Regions from separate parts of the Homo sapiens genome. Here all the other regions are linked to region 1. The links come from fine-mapping of genetic effects on gene expression. A gene starts in region 1. Each other region holds a variant in brackets. All regions are shown on one strand. Distances are from middle to middle.

Evidence for each region. PIP is the estimated chance that this variant, and not a neighbour inherited with it, causes the effect. A credible set is the group of variants that fine-mapping cannot tell apart.
Region 2: its variant is the best candidate, but not a certain one, in a credible set for the expression of RAB6B in whole blood (INTERVAL, PIP 0.85).
Region 3: its variant is the best candidate, but not a certain one, in a credible set for the expression of RAB6B in fibroblasts (GTEx, PIP 0.75).
Region 4: its variant is the best candidate, but not a certain one, in a credible set for the expression of RAB6B in skin (TwinsUK, PIP 0.88).

Annotation. Positions count from the first base shown.
Region 1 is chr3:133,893,625-133,899,087 of GRCh38, reverse strand. RAB6B (RAB6B, member RAS oncogene family) reads left to right here and starts at 3,206. Exons shown (of 8, transcript NM_016577.4): 1 at 3,206-3,691. The coding sequence starts at 3,622. RefSeq lists a silencer at 3,187-3,236.
Region 2 is chr3:133,837,293-133,842,516 of GRCh38, reverse strand. RAB6B (RAB6B, member RAS oncogene family) reads left to right here. Exons shown (of 8, transcript NM_016577.4): 3 at 854-907; 4 at 1,127-1,232; 5 at 2,900-3,011; 6 at 4,258-4,351. Among named protein-coding and RNA genes, the nearest start is that of SRPRB, 34 kb to the right of the region's middle. RefSeq lists an enhancer at 2,145-2,645. The variant A/GTA (reference allele first, on the strand shown) is at 2,530.
Region 3 is chr3:133,827,668-133,833,099 of GRCh38, reverse strand. It overlaps RAB6B (RAB6B, member RAS oncogene family), which reads left to right. Exons shown (of 8, transcript NM_016577.4): 8 at 4,248-5,432. The coding sequence ends at 4,312. It also overlaps a transcript of SRPRB not described here. Among named protein-coding and RNA genes, the nearest start is that of SRPRB, 25 kb to the right of the region's middle. The variant CACAA/A (reference allele first, on the strand shown) is at 3,141.
Region 4 is chr3:133,863,037-133,868,499 of GRCh38, reverse strand. RAB6B (RAB6B, member RAS oncogene family) reads left to right here. Exons shown (of 8, transcript NM_016577.4): 2 at 3,858-3,916. Among named protein-coding and RNA genes, the nearest start is that of RAB6B, 30 kb to the left of the region's middle. The variant G/A (reference allele first, on the strand shown) is at 3,283.

The DNA.
Region 1 (5,463 bases):
AGAGGCATCAAGAGACATGTAAAGAATGTTGATGGCAGCATTGTTTGTTAATAGCAGAAACAAAACTGAGTGCATTTTCCAATGTTAATTTCCTGGTTTTACTAAGCAATGTGGTTATGTAAGATGTTATCACTGGGGTAGCTTGGTGCAGGATACATAGTAACTCCCTGCACTGTTTTTTATAACCTCTATGTGAGTATAAAATTATTTAAAATAATTTTAAAAAAGGCCAGGCGTGGTGGCTCACACCTGTAATCCCAGCACTTTGGGAGGCTGATGCAGGCGGATCACGAGGTTAAGAGATTGAGACCATTCTGGTCAACATGGTGAAACCTCGGCTCTACTAAAAATAAAAAAATTAGCTAGACCTGGTGGTGCGTGGCTGTAGTACCAGCTACTCGGGAGGCTGAGGCAGGTGAATTGCTTGAACCTGGGAGGCGGAGGTTACAGTGAGCCGAGATGGCGCCGCTACACTCCAGCCTGGTGACAGACCAAGACTCCATCTCAAAAATAATAACAACAATAATAAAATAAAATAAAATAAAAATTTTAAATGACACATTTTACAGAAAATCATTTAAAAATTGGGGCATAACTAGAATACTAACCAGCAGTGAAAATGAAAGAACTGCTGCTACATGAATTAACAAATGGATCTCAGAAACATGATGTTAAGAAACATGCAAGTCAGGACAGAAAACACAGTTTGATACCTTATATAAGATTCAAAAGATGCAAAACAAAACAAAGTATTGTGAAGGACACATCCAATGTGATAAAACTCAAAGAAAAGCTAAGATTCTGGATTTCCAAGTTGGGGAGGGAGGAAGGAGAAGAAAGCACCTGGGGGCCTGAAAAGTACTATAATATTTGAGCCCTCCAGCTGTGTAGAGGGTAAATGGGCACTCAGAGTGATAGGTTTTCTTTGTAACTTACATATACACAGCACATACTAAATAGGAAGATTTAAAGAATTTTTTTAAATGGAATGCACAGATTCTATGATATGGAAGAAACTCTTTCTAGTGAGGTTGCCAGGCTGAGGTTCAGTGGCCCCATTTTCCACCTGGAGAAAGTCTGTCTGCTTTAGGGCAGGTTAAGGACAAGACTCAAAATCAGGGGAGATAAGCAATGATAGTTGGAGGAGAGAGACTTGGAGCAGAGCAAACTTGGAGTCTCTAAGGCTCTCATTTCCACAGCATGATGACTGCATTCTGAGAGCAATGCCAGTATCTGCTCCAGCGACGTGAGCCCGGTAGTCGGAGCCGGGTTTTTGTCATTTGAACTGGAAGAATTATGACAGAGTCCCCCAAAGTAAGCTGGACCATAGTCAGCCCAGCTGGACCTGGTAAGCATATGGGATGACTTGGAGGCTTAGAGGTGCCCAGAGGGGCCCTGCCCCAGCCCTCCCTCCCCTACTGCCATACCACCTTACATGTGCGGGACCAGATGATCAGAGGAGGTACAGGACCTGCCTAGGCTTACCCAAAAGATGGTGCCTTTTCTGGCACACCTCAGCTGTTTTGTCTTGCCACCGATGATCTCATCAGGTCAGGATGAGAGGGTACAGGGAGACAGCACTAGATGTTAGGAGAAGGTGCAGGTTGGAGGAGTGTTGCATGGCTGGGTACCTTGGCCAGTAGCTCACTGGCCCTTCTTTGGAGGGATCACTTATAGAGACGGGAAGGGCTGTGACTTGGGAGTCTCCTCTCCTTTCAGAGCTTTCTTCAACCCCAAGCTGGATATGGTCTCCTAAGAGAGCAGGAGCCCCAGAGAAGTGGGTGGGTGTCTGGAGGGTTACCCTGAGCCTGGTGCCAGCCACAACGGGGCAGATATTCTAGGTGATGACTTACAATCCCTGGGGTTCCAAACTAAAGGTAATTATGAGAATAGGACAGTTATTTTGATTTGAGTTCTAGATGTTCATTCAAACATTCAACAACTATTTCTTAAACTCTGAGCTATGTCCTTGGGATGCAGTGGTGGAGCTTCAACTACTGCTTTTATGGAACTTGTGGTCAGGTTTCTAACAAGAAATAGGAAAGAGATTCGAGGTGAGCACACCAGGGAGACAGATAGGCTTGCCCAAGCAAGCCCCATAAGTCAAAAAGGGGGTAACAAGTGTCCACGAGAAATCTGGAGGTGAAGGTTGTGTCTCACTCCTCTTTCTCTTTCTATAACACATGCGTGCACACACCATCGTGTTCACCGACATGCAGATTATTATCTCAAATAAATGCTCACTGAACAGCCATAAATGAACAAGACCACGCTGTGGCAGAACAGTAAGGGACAGCTTTGTAAAACCTCAATTAACCAGCATGCCTTAGGCTCGGGCTGTCTTGGGAGTGTTTCTAGCACTTGGCGTCTGCTCTTTGCTCTCACTCACTCACAACTTGGTCTGTGTGCCTCGATGGACCAGGCAAGTAGAGGCCAAGGAGAGGTCGCCCACATGTCCTCAGATAGCTCATTGTCCAGATACACCTAATTGCCAGGGTGGGGAGTGGCATTGTCAGCCTGGCGACCCCGGGATCAAGAAACGCAGGGCACTGTCCTGGAGATAGTGGCACTGGCATTCAGAGCGTCACCGTTCCTTCTCTCCCATGGGGCAGGTTAGGATTTGGCATAAAATGATCCAAATGAGCAGCTGGTTTGAGGTAGGCGCGCCTGATATTGGCAGCTCCTCTCTCGCTGGCCAGGTCTGCGGGGGCACCCACAGACTCCACAAGAGGCCGCCCAAATAAAGGGTCTAGGCCTCGAGAGGGAAGGGCGGGCTAGAAGCCACGGGGGGCAAGAGTCGAGCCCCATCTGCGCCAAGTACGCCAGGTTTCCCTAGGTCTGACCGCCCTGACGGGCCTCGCCACACCCTGGCTCTCCCCCACCTTCGTTCCTTTCCGCCCTGTCGGTCGGACGACTGCGCTGTGCATCGGTGTCTCGCGAGGTGGAGGAAGGGACTGGCATCTAGGTTTAAAAGACCAGAAACAAATGTCCCCTGACAATTTCTGTCATTTTCTGGATTCAAAAGAGGGGTAGAGTGGGGAAGACAGACGCAGCGGGGCAGCGAGACACGGTCCCCCCCGGGGGGCTCTCAGGGGTACGGCGAGGAGGTTCTCTCCTGCCCGGGTGCGGGCTCGGGTGGGCGGGCGCACGCCCCCCAGCCCCGCAGCCCCGCGGGCCCCGCATGACATCAGAGGCTGGGGAGCGCACAGAGCGCAGGCGCCGGCGGAGGAGGCAGGCGGGAGGGGGCCGACTGGCGCGGCTCTGGAGAGCGCTCCTCCGCCCCGCGCGCCGTCCCTGCGCCCCGCTCCGCCCGCGCCTCTCTCCCAGCGCCGCGCCTCGGGCGTAAAGAGCGCGCCCCTCGCACCGCAGCCAGTGCCGACCGCAGCAGCCCAGCCCCAGCCTTCCTCCGCCTCCGCCTCTCTCTCCTCCTCCTCCTCCGCCGCCGGACACGCAGCCGCAGGCCGGGACCGGGACGCAGCTGGGGAGTCAGGGACGCGCGCAGCCAGCCCTTCCCCCTCCGGCTCCCGCACCGCCGGCCGCCTCCCCTCGCCCTCCTACTCTCCCCTCCCTGCTCCTTCGCTTTTTCCTCCTCCTCCTCTCCCGGCCCCGGCTGCCAGCACCATGTCCGCAGGGGGAGATTTTGGGAATCCACTGAGAAAATTCAAGTTGGTGTTCTTGGGGGAGCAGAGCGGTAAGTACCCGGCTTAATCTCTTGGCTTGTCGCCGAGTCGACCCCCGCCGCCCAATCGCCCACCCCATTGGGACCCCCGGCCCAGGCTCGGAAAGGCCCCTCCTTGCCAGGGTAGAGGAGAGGGACAGGGATGGGGAGGTCGGGGCGGGGTCGGGCTGGGGAGGGGCCAAGGGTGAGGACGGAGGAGGCGCTGGAGCCTGGGGTGGAGGTGAGGGTGGGCTCTGGGTGGGGGGCCCGGGGTGTGGGTGCAGGTGCGGCGCTGCAGGGGGCCCGGAGGGCGGCGGCTGGCTCCGCGGCGCTGGCCAGGGCGTGAAGGAACCGGGCTCGCTGGCTAGCTCACACTGCGGCACCGGCTGCGGGCGACCGCGCAGGTGGCTGGGTGCTGGCGGGGGTGGGGAGAGCGACGGGCGCCCCCCTTGGAGAACGAAGCGAAGCTGGGGTCTGGCCGGGCCTCACTCCGCTGCACTGGAGGGGTGTTCCCTGCGGACCCTGCTGGGAACCATGCGAAAGGGCACGTCCAGGGCGTGGGACAAACAGCCACCGGGGAGAAAAGAGCGACACCTGTCTCTGCTCGAAAGAGCGAGTGCAGGCCATGGGGGAACGGGGAGCCTACCTCCCCTGGCTCACGTCCGACTGGGCACAGAAGGTTCTAGACCCGCTGCCCTTCGCCGGCGCTTGTTAGTCTCCTTGCTGCCCAGGGATCTGGGCAATTGCAGTGAGGGCTACCCCAACTCGAGGCGATTTGGGGAATGATACAGGGGCACCTCACACCGAGAGGCTGTGAAGTCTGGCTCTGGGCAGAGAAAGGCCCAGGCGACACGCCCTGCCTAGCTTCCCAGCACTCCTCCAGAGAGCATCGGTGGATTCTTCCCACCCCCACCTCCCAGCTCACCGCCCTTCTTGGGGGAGGGGAGGTCACCCTGGCAGTCGGCCAGAGCTGGGGGAGGGGGAGACTGCTTCTCCGCTGCCCGGCTCCCTCCCCAGGAAAACATCTCTGAAAACCAGGTTAGTCCCTAGAGGCGGGAAGCCCAGATTGAAGGGCAGGGACCCCTCTGCCACCTGTAGGAAGGAGTGGCTTTCAGAGCATCCCTCCAGAGGCCTCTCGCATGGGGCTGCAGGGAGACAAACTGAGCTCTGGTCAGCTCTGCTCTGGGAGAAGGCTGTCCTTGCGGGACAGGACCCCAGCTCTGCCTCTGCAGACCAGTCCTGTTCACCTGGGTTGGTGCCTCTCTGACAAGGGGGCCCAAAAGAAAGGCAGCTGTGGGAGGACTGGGTGGGCCCAGGAACAGTGCTACTGTGCTGTGTGTACATGAGGGTTATGGAGGTCACGTGGCTGGCTCTTGTCTGCTGATACTCATTGCCTAAGATGGATGGTTCAGAGAAGGACGTTAGAAGGTAGTGTCCAGGCCCAGTATGGAGATGGGTTTGGGGGACAGGCTGGGCATTTCAGAAGAAGATCCACTCAGCCAGCCAGCGTTTGCCCTGGATTCTGATTGCCTGTTTTTAATAGATCCCAGTTTCATAGAGCTGACCATACCCTGTGTCTGGAAGGGATTTTGGTGGTATTCACATCCCAGTGCTAGTCTCACCCGGCCTGGAGCCCTGGGAGATAACCTGCAGGGATCAGGCAGCCTGGGGGTTGAATTCTTAGCTGTGTTGTCTTTAGTAAAATTTGAGGCCTCTCTGTGACTCACTTTCTGTCTCTGAAAAATGGTTGCTTGAAGACAATTCTCTTACTTCTTCATGTTTCTTTAGTGCCTCTCAAAGTGCCT
Region 2 (5,224 bases), 56 kb after region 1:
GTGCCGTGGACATTCAGGCTGTGTCCAAGTCTTTGTTATTATTGATTACATAGCAGTGATATCTCCATTTTACATTGACAGCATCTCAGTCCTACTGACAGGTACCGGGTGCCTGTGAGGCCCAGAGAGGTTGGTTGCCTGCCCAAGGCCACACAGCAAGTGAGTGGTGGGTCCTGGCCATCTGGCCACAAGGCTGGCTGCCTCTCACAGGTGCCAGGGCAGAAGAGGCATAGGTGTGGCACAGGGGAGCTGGTGACAGCTTCCAATGTTTTGGCTTGGGGAGAAAAGAGCCAGTGGGGCCTCCCAGCGAGAGGCCACTCTGGGTGGTCTGCAGTGCCCGCACCTGAGAAAAGCCATGCTGCTGTTTGCACCCACACAGCAGCAAGCTGCCTGCTCCTGCCCCCTGCCTCCCACCCTCCCGAGGTCAGTGTTGAGCCCAGGCCCATGCTTTAGGGCAGAGGGAAGAGGCTTTGGAAGCTGCAGGTTAGGCCATGAAGGGAACAAGGCAGGGAGTCCAGGTGGGGAGGGCAGGATATGTGCGTTGAGTGGCCTGAGTGGCCTTGCTCCTGGGGAGGCCTCCTCACCACTGCGCTCTCACTGCTTCTGAAGCACTTGCCCTCTCCAGAGAAGATCTCACCCTATAAAGGCCACCCTCATCTTTCCTCAGCTTGATCCCTCAGTGAGAGAGCCGCTGAGTGGTAGCAGGGAGGGGCAGGGAGGACAGAGCATGGCCACATTAGACCTGACATGAGCGTCCCCTCTTGCTGGTTATGCCACCACCTGTGGTCGCTAGGCTTTTGCCCCTTTGCATGAGACCTTTTGATTTTGACCGTTCTGTGCTTTTCTCTAACAGGCAACCATTGGGATTGACTTCTTGTCAAAAACCATGTACTTGGAGGACCGCACGGTGAGCACCTAATATCAGGACTGGGAGGGGCAGGGAGGGTTCCTTTGGGCTTATCCCCTAGGACCCTTAGCTGGGCACCACTGAGAGCACCTGCCGACACTAGGGGCTGGAGCTGGTGATGCCAGCATTGCAGAGCCCGGCTCTCCCAGTCCCCCGGACCAGGAGGACCTCACTGCCCCACTGACCCCTCTGCCCATGGTCCTGCCCTCCCTGAGACAGGTGCGACTGCAGCTCTGGGACACAGCTGGTCAGGAGAGGTTCCGCAGCCTGATCCCCAGCTACATCCGGGACTCCACGGTGGCTGTGGTGGTGTACGACATCACAAGTGAGTGAGGCTCTGCTCCTAAGGGAGGGTGGCTCATAGGGGGTCCAGGGCCCAGGTGTGACCCTGGCCAGGCCTGTGTGCATGTGTGTGCACACGCATGTGTGTGCACACGCATGTGTGTGCGATTGCTCCCTGAATGCAGAAAGGCAGGGAGCAGTGGTGAGTTGCCTTTGAACACCAACATGGTTTCCACTGCTCCCCACCCTCCTGCAACCGACAGGGGTTTATAGGGCCAGGTTGGTCCTGCTCGGAGTGGAGGCCAGCTTGTGGTGTGAGCAGATGCTCACAAGGTTGGCCCTGCTCCAGCCTCTCTGCACCCTCCCTCTCCCTGGCTGTCAGAAAGCTCCCTAAGGAGCTACTTCTATATGTGTGTCACCATGGGAGAAGACGCTGGTCCCTAGGCCAACCCCGGCCCAGCAGCTGTGGGTGCAGGACTCCCTGGGAAGGTAGGCAAGGGGGTCTGGAAGCGCAGTAGGCTGGTAACCCTTCTCCAGTACTGTGGCTCTTCAGGCCAGGGCAGGTGTTCTTAACAGGACTGCACAGCCTCAAGGGCGCACAGGGCCAGAGGTGGGGGTGGGGGGCCGAGGCAGAGGCCAGACCTGCAAGGCTCTTGTAATGGAACACACCTGATAAGCCCTCAGGGCTGTGGTTACCCTGAAGTGGGCGAATGCCCTAGGTGCTGTCCACAGCCTTAAAAATCACACAAGGAAGCATGCATGTCCCCGCGCTGGTGCATGCCCCCGCCACCCAGCCTGCTGCCCTGGCTCTGCCCACCCCTTCTGTCCACCTCTCTTCTGACCACAGGCCCCCTCCACACCTGAGTGCAGGTGGGAGCTGGGCCCGCAAGGGCCTGGGTTCACATGGCCTGAGGCACATCAGAAGGGATACCAGGCTGTGTGAAACTGAGGCTTCTGAGGACAGCTACCTCCCCTCCCCTTGGGTGTGCAGGCTGCCGAGTGGTGGGTATTGCCTTATAGCTGCTCTGCCCTGCAAGGCCTATCATGGCAGCTGAGGGGGGTCAGGCTGCCCAGAAGTGGCCTTGTCTCTCCTGGATTTTTGAGTGCACCTGGCTCCCCTGACTAGTCCCGGGGCCACCTTTCCCCTCCTCTCATCTGCAGAGCCTGAGGGTTCTCTTCAGAAACCCCTCTGGCCTTCCCCAAACTCTCCTGAGCTCCCATGGTGGGGACACCACTCAGTAGGGCCCTTCCTTCCCTAGAGGCTGCTGTGTCCTCCTCTGCCCACCCTCACTGTTCCCAAACTTGCCAAGTCGCGCGCGCATGTGTGTGTGTGTGTGTGT[A/GTA]TGCACACACACGTGTGACCCAGTTCTCACTCTCCACTCTGAATCCCCAGAGTCAGGTCTCTCAGGTGGGCCCCTAAAGCCACTATTCCATGTGGCAAATCATGACACTGTGATCTTCCAGATGGGGTGATTCCTCTCCCACAAAGGGTGGCTGAACAGTGCAAGTGGCTCCCCAGGGCCGCAGGGCAGGGCCCGGTTCCCTCTGAAAGGCCCTACCCAGCTGATCTGTGTTGACTGAGCTCACACCCCTCCCTGGGTATCTGAGGGCACATGCTCACCCTCCCTCCTGCTCCTGGCTCACACCTCCCCTTCCCATCTCCCACTGGTGGCTGGCCCTGGCTTTCAGTTTATCCTCACTTTCTGCCTCCAGATCTCAACTCCTTCCAACAGACCTCTAAGTGGATCGACGACGTCAGGACAGAGAGGGGCAGTGATGTTATCATCATGCTGGTGGGCAACAAGACGGACCTGGCTGATAAGAGGTAGGTGCAAGGGCACACAGGTGCAGGGTGCCACCCTCCACTCCTCTGTAACTGCTCCTGGACAGGGAGCTCTGGGATGCATGGGTGGTGTGTCTGTGCTTCTGACCATGCATCCGGAAAAGGTCCCTTGAGACACTAGGAGCTTTGAGGACACCTGGTAGACTCTCATCCATGGGTATCTCATCTGTGAAGCCCTGTCTTCCACCACCAGGCAGGGGCGGGGCACTTCTCCGTTTGCTGTCTACACAGAGCACTGTGCACCTGGCTTGACCCAGCAGTGCATGGTCTAAGGCCCTGCCATGGCCACAGCCCTGCCCCAGACACAGCAGTCCTCTAGGCCCCAGCGTGTGCACTGTGAACTGTCTGTGCCTGTGAAGTGTCTGCACCAATGTGCGTGGGGCTGTGAATGCCCTGGGCCCTAGGTGTGAGCATGCAGAGCATTCAGACCACAAACCTATGGCCGTAGCCTGCTTAGCCTGGTTTGTGGCTGCGTCTGGCATGAAGCTTTCTCTGAAGAGGCTCCTCCATGCTGCCCTCCATGCACAGGGAGAACTGAGGTGCCATGTGTGTACATTGTCCACTCATTTTACATGACCCTGACTTGGGCAGATAAAGTGACAGGCCATGGACTCCAGCAAGCAGTGTGGGCTTCCTGCAGCGTCCCTTGACCACCTGAGGAATCATCTGAATTAGAGCCTGCTTTACTAGAGTTCTGTCCTTAAAGTAAGGAAAACTGGGCTCAAATCCCAGTACAAAGGGTACCCAGGCCCTTCATACCCTCACCCACTTCTGCCTGCCCCATCATGGAGCCCTCTCTGCTAAGTAGCTTTGTGGCCCTGGGGGAGACACTTTTAGCATTAGTGTTCTCACAGGGAAAATGCGACTGATAATACCACCCAGAGTGGCACTGCCTGGCTTGAATCTCTTCATAAGCACAGGCTCTGCAGTAGTGACTACTGGGAAAGGCAGGTATGGGGCAGCCCTACCCCAGGGCCTGCTTTGAAGCTGAGAAGACACAAAGGAAGGAGTGGGGGAAGCGGATAGTGTCCTACTGTTCCCTGGTGCCTGCTTTGTGCTAGCGAGACTGTGGTTGGTGCCCGGGAGGGACCCTTGGGATCAGAGCCTGTCTTCAGGACTGACCAAGGGCCCAGTGGGCTCCCTCTGCCCTGCTGGGTGGGTCCCTCCTCATATCTGCCAGGGTCTGCTTCTCTGCTGAGCTGATTTCCCCCCTTCCCCTCATCTCTAGGCAGATAACCATCGAGGAGGGGGAGCAGCGCGCCAAAGAACTGAGCGTCATGTTCATTGAGACCAGTGCGAAGACTGGCTACAACGTGAAGCAGGTGAGGACACACCTGGCACGGGGCCCGGCACGGGGCCCGGCACGGTGTAGCCCTGTGGTCAGCTGCAGGCTCAGAGCTGCCTTGCCCTGAAGGGCTGGTGATGGGATTGGGGCAGCCAACCAGAACACCCATAGATGCGCCCAGGGAGGGGAGAGCTAATTTCCGGAGCTGGTAAAGCCCAAAAGAGGGAGGGACCACTCCGGGCATGGCATCTGGAGAACATAAGTCACCAGCCACCGTAGTAGTTGCCAGTCACGGCCCACGTAGCAGGCCCTAAGAGTGTCCAGCCACCAGCTTCCAGGAGGCTGAGGGAAGCAGTGGTTCCCTAGCCCCTCACCCCACTTTGGATGACAGGTGCAGGAAAATTCAATCTGATCAGCATTTGGGGTTCATGCCTTGCGCTTAGCAAGTGCTCAGGGCTGTGGAGGGCAACTCAGGCCTGGGGGAAAGAGCCTACCATGATGTGGTTGGAACTCACAGGAGGGCGAGGCAGTGGAGTTAGGGCTGAGCCTTGCAGCATGAGGGCCCCTGAGTAGTCCATGGGTGGAATTTAGCAGGTCAGCAGACAGGGCTGGAAAACATTGCACCTTTATCTTCACTAACCACTGACCCGTCCGTAGCACTGAAGGACGTCTGATTTGTCCTTCAATGATGAATGTAGGCAATGACACTCAGTCACATTAGCAGTGCCTATGGCTTTACCACCAATAGAAATCACAGATGCCTTCCCATCACCTCATAGTGTTGCAGGTATCTTGAACTTCACATCTATCAGTGTTTCAGCATCACACTACTTATTAGATCTCTTGCTAGTTCTCGCTGTTCAATGTGTTTCATAAGGAAGCACAAATGTCGATGAAGTTTTATTTCAGT
Region 3 (5,432 bases), 66 kb after region 1:
GCAGGCGATCTCCGCTGTGCCTGCCAGCAAGGGGAAGGGTTGCACTGCCCGCTCTCCATCCCACCAGCTCCCAAGGTGTGGCACACTGGCCGGGGTGAGTGGTGATCGTTTCATTCACATTCTCCCAGAGTCGCGCTGTTGAGGGCTCCAGGCTGGGCCCACAGTCAGGTCAGACTGGGCTGAGTGCAGGGTGACAGTGAGCTCGTCATCGTCCTGGTATGCCTAGCGTTTCATCCAGCTACCACTGACCTTTGGGCCCCTTGGGAGAAAGGATACATGGCAGGTTGCAAACAGACTGCACAGGGTGTTGTGACCTGTGTCCCTTTTTCTAGCTAAGGGGTCCCCTCATCTGGGTAGATGTACCCCCATCCTTTCACTTCTGCCCAGGAGCCAGCTTGCTGGGCCTCTCACGAGGCAGGTGCTAGAGCGGCCACCAGAGGTCCCAGAGGGACCAGGCAGAGGCAGCCGTCATTCTGCTTCTTTCGGGATGGGGTGTTGGCATTTCTGCTTACTCACAGTCCAAATCCAGGTGTTTTGAAGGTGTGTGCTTTGGGGTCATGTTCATAATTGTGTTCCACATTGAGAGCAGCCACACAGAAGCACTGCTTTGTGGCGCTGTATAAACTGTTCACACCTGGCCTCACTTGCTCAGCTCAGGACTTGGTGAATGTGTGGCATGAGGTTTCCGTCTGCTGCTTGCAGGTCTAGATGGGGGGCTGCTGCACCTCTTCTTCACGTTCGAGACAGGAGGACCCCTCAGGGCCGCTCTGGCCAATACTTCTGCCCAGCAGCACCCTCCACTGGTCTGCTCTCAACAAAGTAGGAGCCAAGGGGCCACCAAATGGTAGAGCCATAAGCCCCTTACTGGTTCTACATACACAACCCCCCAACCCCCACTTTCTACCCAAATACAGTATGCGCCCATCACATGGGCCCCAGACTGTTTCTGAACAAGGCTGGCTTACGCAAAGAAAGAGCAGTAGTGTGGGCACTTCATGAAGTGGCTCTAAGCAGGTGAGGACAGTGACGCCGCAAACCAGATAGAGCATGCTCAAGGCCTCCCAGCTCCTTAATTCAGAGCTGGAACCACATCCAAATGACTGGATTCCACAGCCCTGTTGCACTCTCTGATGGGGCTGTGGTGTGCTTTGACATTCCAGATACAGACAGGATTGTGCTGCAGTAGAGTCAGAGGCACTGGGATTGGGGAAGCATATCCAGCAGTAGGGGGTAAGTTTGTAACAGGCTGTCTGGGCCCACCCATCACTTCCAGGAACCAGGGAGAAGGGACATTGGGCACTGAATGTGGCCCGTGATGGGCCACACTTGACCCAGAGGGAAGAGGCGGGTGTGCTCTGGCCATGCCTGCCGGAAAGGCACATATCTAACCTCTTGAGGCTTGTGAGAAACCGTGAGTTTCCCCTTCTGGGACATTATTTAGACATGGGTCCAGTCATTCTTCCCTGTCCTCTCAATCAGCGGGCAGCCCCTGAGCACTGCATTTCAGCAGCATGTGGCGTAACAAGGAAGGAGGTGTCATTAAATGAGAGCCTTTGGGAAGGCTCCTAGCGGAAGAGCTGGGCCTGTGCTCTCCAATTCTGCAGCCACATGTGGGTGTTCCGACTTAAATTAGTTAAAATTCAGTTGAATTAAAAGTTCATTTCCTCACTTGCACTAGCATCCTTGCAAGTGCCCAGTTGCCCATGTTGCTAATGGTGACATCTTGGACAGTGCAGATATAGAATATTTCCATCACTGGAGAAAGTTCTTTGGACAGTGCTGTTCTAGAAGTATCAGTAGAATTGGTTTCCCGGATGTCTGTGCATTGGGACTCTCCAAAGAACTTGTTAAAAACACACATCTGGGGCCCATCCCCACATCTACCAAGGTAGGACCCAGTGAGACGTATTTTTAACAAACATCCCAGAAAATTTTGATGCAATCCATTTGAGAACTATTGCTGTGCAGTGTACAAAAGTATTGTGATCAAATTGCGCATGAGATTGTTTTAGTGGTCGTAGGTGACTTCAATACTGGGCAGAACGTAATGCTGTAACAGTGGCCAACCTTCAAGCTAGACCACTAGTTCTCAACCAGGACTGATAGCCCTTCCCTCCCCTCCCCACAGGGGACATTTGGCAATGTCTTCAGACGTTTTGGCTCACCATAAATTGGGGGAGGGGGAATGGGGTTTAACTGGCATCTCATAGATAGTGGTCAGGGATGCTTCTGAACATCCTCCGTGCACAGGACGCCCTCATAACAAGGAATTGTCTGGCCCAAAATGTCAGTAGTGTTGAGTTTGAGAAGCCCATCCACAAGGGGCTTAGCACAGCCAGGTCAGTGAAAGTAGAAGGCTGGGGTCAAGATAGCCTTGGGTTTGTACCTGGGCACCTCAGCTTCCCAGCTGGAAGGTGGCTCTTTTACTCCCCACTGCACGAGGTCTAATGTGGAAGTGAGGTAGCTCTCAGCAGGAGAGGCCACTAATGCGTGCACCCTGGCCCAAGGAATGAGGACATTTTTACAGGTGGAGATGGGGAGGAAGGCTGGGTGTGGGGGAGGGAGCATCACTTCTAGAAGGAAAGAACAGCATGAACAAAGGAAAGAAGGAAAGCATAGGACGTGTTTAAAGCAGGGAAAATCTGGTTGGTGGAGCCTTGGTGTGTGATTGAGGGAAGGGGATAAGCTAGCGTCAACAGGTGCTTGGGGTGACCCTAAATGGGGAGGCCTTAAATGCCAGAGTGAGAAATCCGTGGACACTTTGTTTCTGTAGCAGAGTGTGACATGATTGTCACCAGAGCTGGCTTTGGGAAGCCACCATGCTGAGAGAGAGCTGGCTGGGCTCAGAGGGGCACTCAGAGAAGACCAGGAGACCTCAAGGAGGCCTGTGCCCAGGCCAGCAATACAGAACAGGACTGCACTGCCGGCATGGGCCATAGAACTGCAGCTGGCAGAGAGAAACAGCAGGGCATTCCTGGCAGTGGGTTTACCAAAAATGATGGGCAGTAGAGAAGCAGGCTGCTTGACTAGGGTAGAGAGAACAAAAGGTGGGCTGCAGTGGGCAGTGGGAAGGAAGGCACTGGCTTAGTATCTATTTACTCATTTATAGGCTGCCATGGTATAAGATACATATACATACA[CACAA/A]GATAAAGTTGTATGTGTATGTGTGTACACACACACATGGGGAAAATAAAGGTAGGAAAAGCAAAGAAAAGTCAGAGATAAAGTCATACTCAAAATGTATGCCATGGCCGCATGGTTGTTAGAGGTGGCCAAAAAGTTGGCTCTGAGCATCCTCACAGCCAAGGCAAGGAAAGAGAATGTGAACTTCAGGAGAAGCATGGCTTTTCATAGTACTTAAAACAAAAGAACCTCTCCTGTTGTCCTCAAATAGGAGCCACAAAAGCATCCTTAGGATGCCAGCAAGAAGTTCCAAAACAGTGTTTCTTATACCACCACACCCCACACACCCCTGTCTTAAGGCAATCCCTGTCCAGGAAGAGCAATTCTGTGAGGTATCAAAGGGCCTGATCCTCAGCTATAATTAGGTCTGGTTTGATGCAAGGCTAAAATCTCACAGTGTTGGTTTTGAGCCCGATGAGGAAGGCAGAGGGCCAGCCTGGCTGTGCATTTGGAACCAGTCCCTGTGGTGGTTCTGATAAGTGCTTCTTTAGCCCACAGCCCCCGGGGGCACCAGTGGAAAGGGCTGGCGAGGGGGCTGTGCTTAGGCCCCATGGATGTGGCTTCTTACAGTAACCATCCTCAGGATCTAAGTGATGTGTTCTGACTAAAGCTTGAAGGGTTTGCTCCTGCTGCCAATTAGGCAAGGCCCACATACCCCTGTGCTTTGAGATGTGAACCCAGCAGGCTCTTCATCTCCATTGCACTTTGAGTGGGGCTGACAGGTAACTGGGCTGAGGCCAGGGCTGGGAGCTGGCATTTGAGCACTGGTCGAGGGAAGGCTTCTGGGAAAGGGACTCCCTGGCCTTGGTATAGATGGTGATCCCACGGCCCAGGCAAGACAGGCTTTGCTTGGGTGGACAGGCGCTGGGGGAAGTGGACGGGTGAAGGGAAGAGGAGGCAAGGTGGAGTTGGTATTGCATCCTTCCTAGCCCAGCCAAACCAAGAGCCAAGTCCCTAGGTGTTTGCAGAGAAACAGAGCAGTAGCCAAAGGGTACAGTGCACAGGGCTAAGTGGGGTGGCAGCTTGTCCAGGAGAGTCATCTTCCTTAGCCCGTCCCCCTGCAGTGATCGACATCAAGCTGGACAAACCCCAGGAGCCCCCGGCCAGCGAGGGCGGCTGCTCCTGCTAATGCAGAGCCGACCTGTGGCTTCCCATGACACTCCTTGCTTGTTGTGTTGCTTCCTATTGGCTAGCTTCCTAAGGGGGGAGGGAACCGAGTTATCAAGATGGGAGGATTTTTCTTTTCTCTCTGTCTTTAGGAGTAGGGTGGGATGGGGAGGGAGGCTGGGCATCAGGGATCACATCACTCTTAACGGCTGTTACTTAAACAACTATTTTTTGGTTTGGTTGTAATATATTGTACTTTATTAAGATTGCCAAAAACTGTTAAAATTTAAAAAAAATTTAAATCATGTGTATACAATTTTTTGCCAGATAAAAATGTAGTCATTTTTATTTGAAAGATGTGCTTTTTGTTTTTGTATATTTGTAAACTTATAGAGAACCTTTTCCACACACCTCCTCCTTCCTGTTCTCTTTGAACCATTCATCACCTCTGCCTTCCTCCTATCCCCAGCCCAATAAATTAAAACAATTAACTGAGCAAATTAATTAGGCTTCAGTCTGGGGCCATCTGGCCCCACTCTCTAGGCCCTACTCCAGTTAAATCAAACATTGGTTGAACACATCAGCCTCTGAAAAGGTAGCTCTGACTCTTGTCTTTCCATGGCCAGAGTGGGTCGTCAACCTCGTGTGGAGCTGAGACCAAGGTCTGTGGGCTCTAGGCAGCCCGGCAGCAGCCCCCAGAGGAACTGCTCCCACCTCTCCTTCTCTTTCCCTGAAAAGCCTTGAAGGGGGTTGAGGGTACAGGCAACCTTGTGTTCTCTGTGCCCTCAGGGACTGGCAGAGCAAGAGGCCATCAGAAGGACGAGGTGCTGTTGGCAATTGCAGCTGCGTGGTGCGTGGTTTATAGACTGGGGTGCCATGTGTACTTCTGAAAATATTTTAACCAGCCCACCCAGCAGTCAGTACACATGCCTGGGCCAAGTCTAAGAAACTCAGTGTGTGATGTTGGGCAGTGTGCCATCCTGAAGCCTTCCTCCTGGATGTCAGGGAAGCTGGACCACCTGGAGTTGATCCTCTGTGATGGGGAGGCGGGGGGGGGGGGGGGTGTTGTCTGCAGAACCACCACCTTGAAAGATCCATGTTCTTAGAGCCTCAGCTGCTAATATTGTTGAGTGCTTTCTGGA
Region 4 (5,463 bases), 31 kb after region 1:
GACCTTGAGAACAGAGCTGGCAGGAGGACAGCTCCCGCAGAAACTCCGGCAGCTGTTGCGAGGCAGGGGGACACAGGAGGAGCTCCTGGCTCTTCCACCTGCCAGGCTGCAGGCCTGCTGGGATGCCCCATGCTACTGCTCCTCTGAGGCTGAGTGGGAGTGCCTGGTCAGGTGGCTCGGGATGGGTTCTGCCCACCCCTTATGGTTGGGGGACTGAGAAAGTAGCCAGGTAGATGCAGTGTGCAAGTTCTCCATTTGCAGGTTCTAGCACCTTCCACCCCGGGCAGTTGTTGAGGGCAGGTGTGGGCTGAGGAAGGGGTCTTTGCCATTTAGAGGGGAGAGGAGCTTAGCACAGCACAACCCCTTACCCACCTAGCTCCTTTATGTGATACCATGGGCAGAGGCTGGGCAGAAATGGACAAGAGGAGCTCCTTTTAATAAGCTCTGCCTCAGGTCTGCAGACACTTCCCCAGAGACAAAGCATGGAGGACAAGGGTCTCGGATACCACTGCAGGGGTGTAACACACATTACCCTGGCAGAAGTGACGAGGGCATGGGTAGTCTTAGCGGGCTCTGAGGTGGGGAAGAAGGCTTCAGCTCCGAGAAATGAGAAAAATGAGCCTAGAGGAATAGTGTAAAGTCATTGCCTTTTGCAGCAAAGTAAGAATGAGTCCCTCATCCATTTCAAGCCTGAGTTGGGGTGCTGGGCCCCAGATGTTAAAACCCTCACTTTCTGAGCCCTCCTTGTACCCCACAAAGCACTTCCAGGGCACCTCAGTGACCAGTTTCTGACCTTTCAGATTGGATCAAGCCCCTACCAAGTGGGGAAAGGCCCCCAATTCCAGACTTGGCCTGGGACGGGCTGTTCCCTGGAGCGCCACAGCAGTGGCAATAATGACCTGGCAGAATTCTGAACCCAGCATGATCTATCAAGGAGTACCCGGATAAGAACTGAGCACCTGGTCATGCAGCCACATCCCAGCCCCACTCAGCTCTGACCCTGGTGCAGGAGCTGTCACCTTAATGCCCGTTGTGTGAAATGTGGATGACATTAGTGCCACCCAGAGTTGAGGGCTGGGAGGTATGGTACCCAGTGTTGCTGCAAGCTTCAGTGGGCAGGTGCCACGTCTCCTCTGTTTACTGTTCTCATGTCAATTCTGTGCCTGACTCAGCCCCTACTATGTGCCTGGAACATGCTCTGTAAATGCTGGGGTCATGTGTTGCCTATTATGGTGACTGCGGGAATGCATAGAAAATATCAGCTCTGGCCAGGACCCCACACCTAAAAGCTCCTCCTGCACAATTCCCAGTAAAAAACTTTCAGGGGATGTTTTCCTGCCCCCTAGACCTGTGAGCAAGTGCTAATCCACTGCCAGTGGCTGGTGTCTCATGGAGAGGCACCTTGGCATTAGAAGGTGTTGCAGGGATTTCCAAGTTTTCAGCTACTCCATGAAATTTCTGTGCCCTTAGTGGCTTTTTGGGACCCTGCTTTCTCTCCTCTCTGTGCTTGGAGGCCCTGGGGAGAAGAGACTCAGTGTCTTCCCATCCATCTCCCCACCCTGATCCCTGATGCATGCACCTTTCCCTAAGGTGCAAGACGCAGAGCGTCGCTGCCTAGGGAAGTGACCAGCGTGCCCTGGGATGCCTCTCTTCCCAAGGAGGCAGTAACTTTCCACTCCCTTTCAAAAAGGAGGATGCTGTGTTTTCCCCAATGCATCTGCCTCTTGCTAGTTCAGGGTTGCCCCACTTTCCCCTCTGTGGTCCTCAGCCAGGTGCCTGGGGCCTCATGGCCTCAGAGCTGATCCTCCAGGTATGGGAGGCCCCCTACTTCTCACCTTCATGTGAAATTTAAGGGGAGATTTAAAGCAGTCAGAATGCTCTTTATAGCCTCGTTTCTATCAGAAGTTTAGAAAAGGCTGCTTCCAGGTAAAATTAGAAGAGATCTTGGGCACATTTCTGCTCACCCCAGAAATGTTGTTTTAAAAATGGGGCTGTTCTGACACCAGCTGGTACCCTACAATTCACTTCTGGCACTGACCACCCAGAGTTGGCGTGGTGGTCAGCGTTCTCCAACAAGGGCAGAATCCTGACCTGGCAGAATCCTGAACCCAGCATGACCTATCAAGGAGGACCTGGATAGGAACTGAGCACCTGGTCAGGCAGCCACATCCCAGCCCCACTCAGCTCTGACCCTGGGCCAGGAGCTGCCACCTAATTGCCCATTGTGTGAAATGGGGATGACTTGAGTGCCGCCCAGAGTTGAGGGCTGGGGGTGGTGGTGATACATATATTTTTTCCATCTGATATTCTGGAAACTGCCTTACCTTGCTCAGTTACCTGCTGCCTCCTTCCACTTTTAAGCATTTCCCATGTGCCTTGTACTTTTTACCTGATTTAATTCTTACTACAGCCCCCTGAAGTCTTTGATGTTAATATACTCATTTTCAAATGAGGAACTGAGGTCCTGGGATGGTGATAACCTCAAGGTGACACAGCTGAAAAGTACCCCAATAGGATTTCAATCCAGCTAACCAAATCTGGGTTAAAGATGGGGTCTTCTGAATTTAGCCCAAACACAGTCAGTCAGATGCTCCTTCTGGGTAGAAGATCATCTTTCCCATAGCAAATGCTGGCTGCTGGGAGCTGAGTGCACTTGTCTGTTATGTGGTGCACTCTTGAGGCCTCAAAGCTGGTAAAGGGCCTTTGCCAAGGGGTCCTGTTGGCTTGTCCTGCTCCCTCCAGGGAGTGACCAGCCACCCCACCAGGCACAGCTTGTGGATGTACTGCCAGCCTGGGAAATGGGAGGGTGAGGGTACTTTTGTTTTGCCTGCCAGCATTACCTGTCCTCCTGAAGCCTAGTGCAGAAAGGGCTCTGAGCCAGCACAGCTGGGCAGATTCCCCACTGAGCCTCCCAGGGTCATGGCAGAGACATGATAGGACAGTACAGACAGGCATCCGTGCAGGGCCCGTCCTAATGAATGTCCCTTGACTGCCCTCTTCCCCCACCCCAGATGGTTAGAAATGCAGCAGTTGGCATTTCTGTCACTGCCAGGCCCCAGGGGAGCTGCACAGGGTGAGGTCAGAAGCCAAATTCTACAATTTGGGAAATTAGCAGCATTTGTAGGATTCCCAAGAGACGTCCTGTTTTCTCTCAGCTGTTCCAGTTGTTCTCAGTTGGGGTGTCACTGCCCCTACAGGGCATTTGCAGATGTGTGAGTGAGTCTACAGTTGTCACAGTGACTGGGGATCCTCCTGGCATTTACCTAGCGGGGTTCCAGGTAT[G/A]CTAAACATCCTGCAATGAGCTGGACGGTCAGATACACAAAGAATAGTCCTGTCCATGAGAGACATGGGGAAATGACATTTGCCTCCCCGCCCCTGGTTCCTTAGAAAGCCACTGTCCCCACCAATCTTCAGGCTGAATTAACAGGAAATAAAGGGCAGGCTTCCATTCCAGTGTATGACCAACAACAAGGTGTACATGGGCAAGTACGAGAGGAGCCTCCTGTTTTGCACCCACTTACCTTGATTCTTTATAGATGGTTCTTGCATCAGCTGGGTTCTCCTGGGTCAAGGAAGACCTGGATTTGGGTAGTGGAAATCCATGGGGCAGTGGGATACCTCCTCCTTGGCAGCACCCTGGTGCCTGGCAGGAACAGCCCTCAGCCCACCTGGTATAGAGACTCGGTGGCCTCACCACGGGGTCCCTAGCAGGGGCCTGTCTCCCACTTCTGTATTTCTGCAACTCGGCCTTTCCCCTGTGCTTTTTGGTTTTGTTATCTTTTCTTCAAATGCAGTGTGTTTAGAAGAGCCTAGCTCAGATGCCATGACTGAACACCTCTCTCCTTGTTGTTTTGCAGTCGGGAAGACGTCTCTGATTACGAGGTTCATGTACGACAGCTTCGACAACACATACCAGGTGAGGTCCTGGGTGCTCACCCTCCATATCATCTGGCAGTGGCTGACCTCTCTTTGAAACTTGCTGAGCTGGGGTGGGAGTGGAATGGCCCTGGGTTCCCAGGCTGTCATTTTGCTATGGAGGAGCTTCCCACCTCTATACTGGCCCCATCCCTGTAAAGAGCTTGAGCCCTTCTGAAAATCCACCCCTCGGTAAAGGGAACATTTTTCAGAGGAAAATTCTAAAAATAGAGAGAGTCTGTGTTCTCTTGTTCCTCACAGGCAGATCCAAACCATGATAGTGTTTGGTTGTTCAGGGGAGTCATCATGTGGAAGAGGAACAAGATGAAAATGAGAGTGTTAGGCGAACTTGCGCCTCATGCATGGTTGTAATGGTTATGTTTGCTGGGACCTTCTCTCTCTCTCACCCCCGCCCCCCCCCACACACGCACACAAACACACACACGCGCGCACACACACACACACGGTTGCTGAGGCACTTCCTTCCCTGGAGAGGCTGGTGCGATGAGCTTGCCCTGCCCTACATGGGCAGGAGGCTGGATGCGGTGACCTCTGCAGCTCCTGGCCCTGGAGGCGTAGTCTGGGGTCAACCAGAGGCCCAGAGGTGGTTCCAGGTGCCCTGAAGGCCAAGTTCTTGGGGGTTAATAACATGTCACTTTCCTGGCACCACTGGTGAGTAGGGAGGTTTGTGCAAGTAAAGTGAATTTTCCATGCAATTATAGCTTTTTGCAAAAGGCACCAAACTTAATCATTTCAACTCTTTTAAAGAAAAAAGGTGCTGTTTTATTCCTTAGATAGAGACAAATGATAATGCATTTTTCTACACTAGTGGATTCTGTGAGATACTAATTCCAAGAGGTGTTGGTAGGTGTTACTTGAAAAAAAGTTGAGGTAGGGGGTGGTGGGTTCAGAGCTTGTACAGATTTAGGGAACACTGGGTGAACAAAAGTAAATCTACTGCTGTGCTGCAGGGCTTCTCGGAGCCTGACTATATCAGTGTATAGTTTTGATTTACTGAAAGAGGGATATAGTGTGTAGGATCTCTCAGATGTATTTGATCATGGAATCCCTTGGTTATCGAGTTCTCAAAGGACAAATATTTATAGAACACAGCGGGGACTGCTGTTCTAAGACGTCCCTCCTCCTTTCTGGATTTACAGAGTATGTGGAGCACAGCTCACTGCAGACTGCAGCTCTGTATCTACTTTTTAGTCTGTCTGTCTCCCTCTGGACCAATTATCCTCCTTGCCTTAAATACAGCCCCTCTGTCTGCCTCTCTCTCATTTTTACTCTTTCTTTGCTGTGGTCTCAATTTTTACTTTACCTCTGCTTCTACTCTGCTATGGTCTGAAATACTGGCTAGCCAGTGGACTTGGTGAAACTGACCATAGGAATTGACAGAGGCTCTGGGAGAGGGGCCCTGGCTGATGTGCACAGCCTCAGGTGTGGACTGTGGGATGTTCACCTTGGTCACACTTTGTCTTTGTTGTATCCTCTCTGGGCCAGGGCTTTGTAGCACCAAGCCTGTCCTCCTAATGAGGGGAGTTC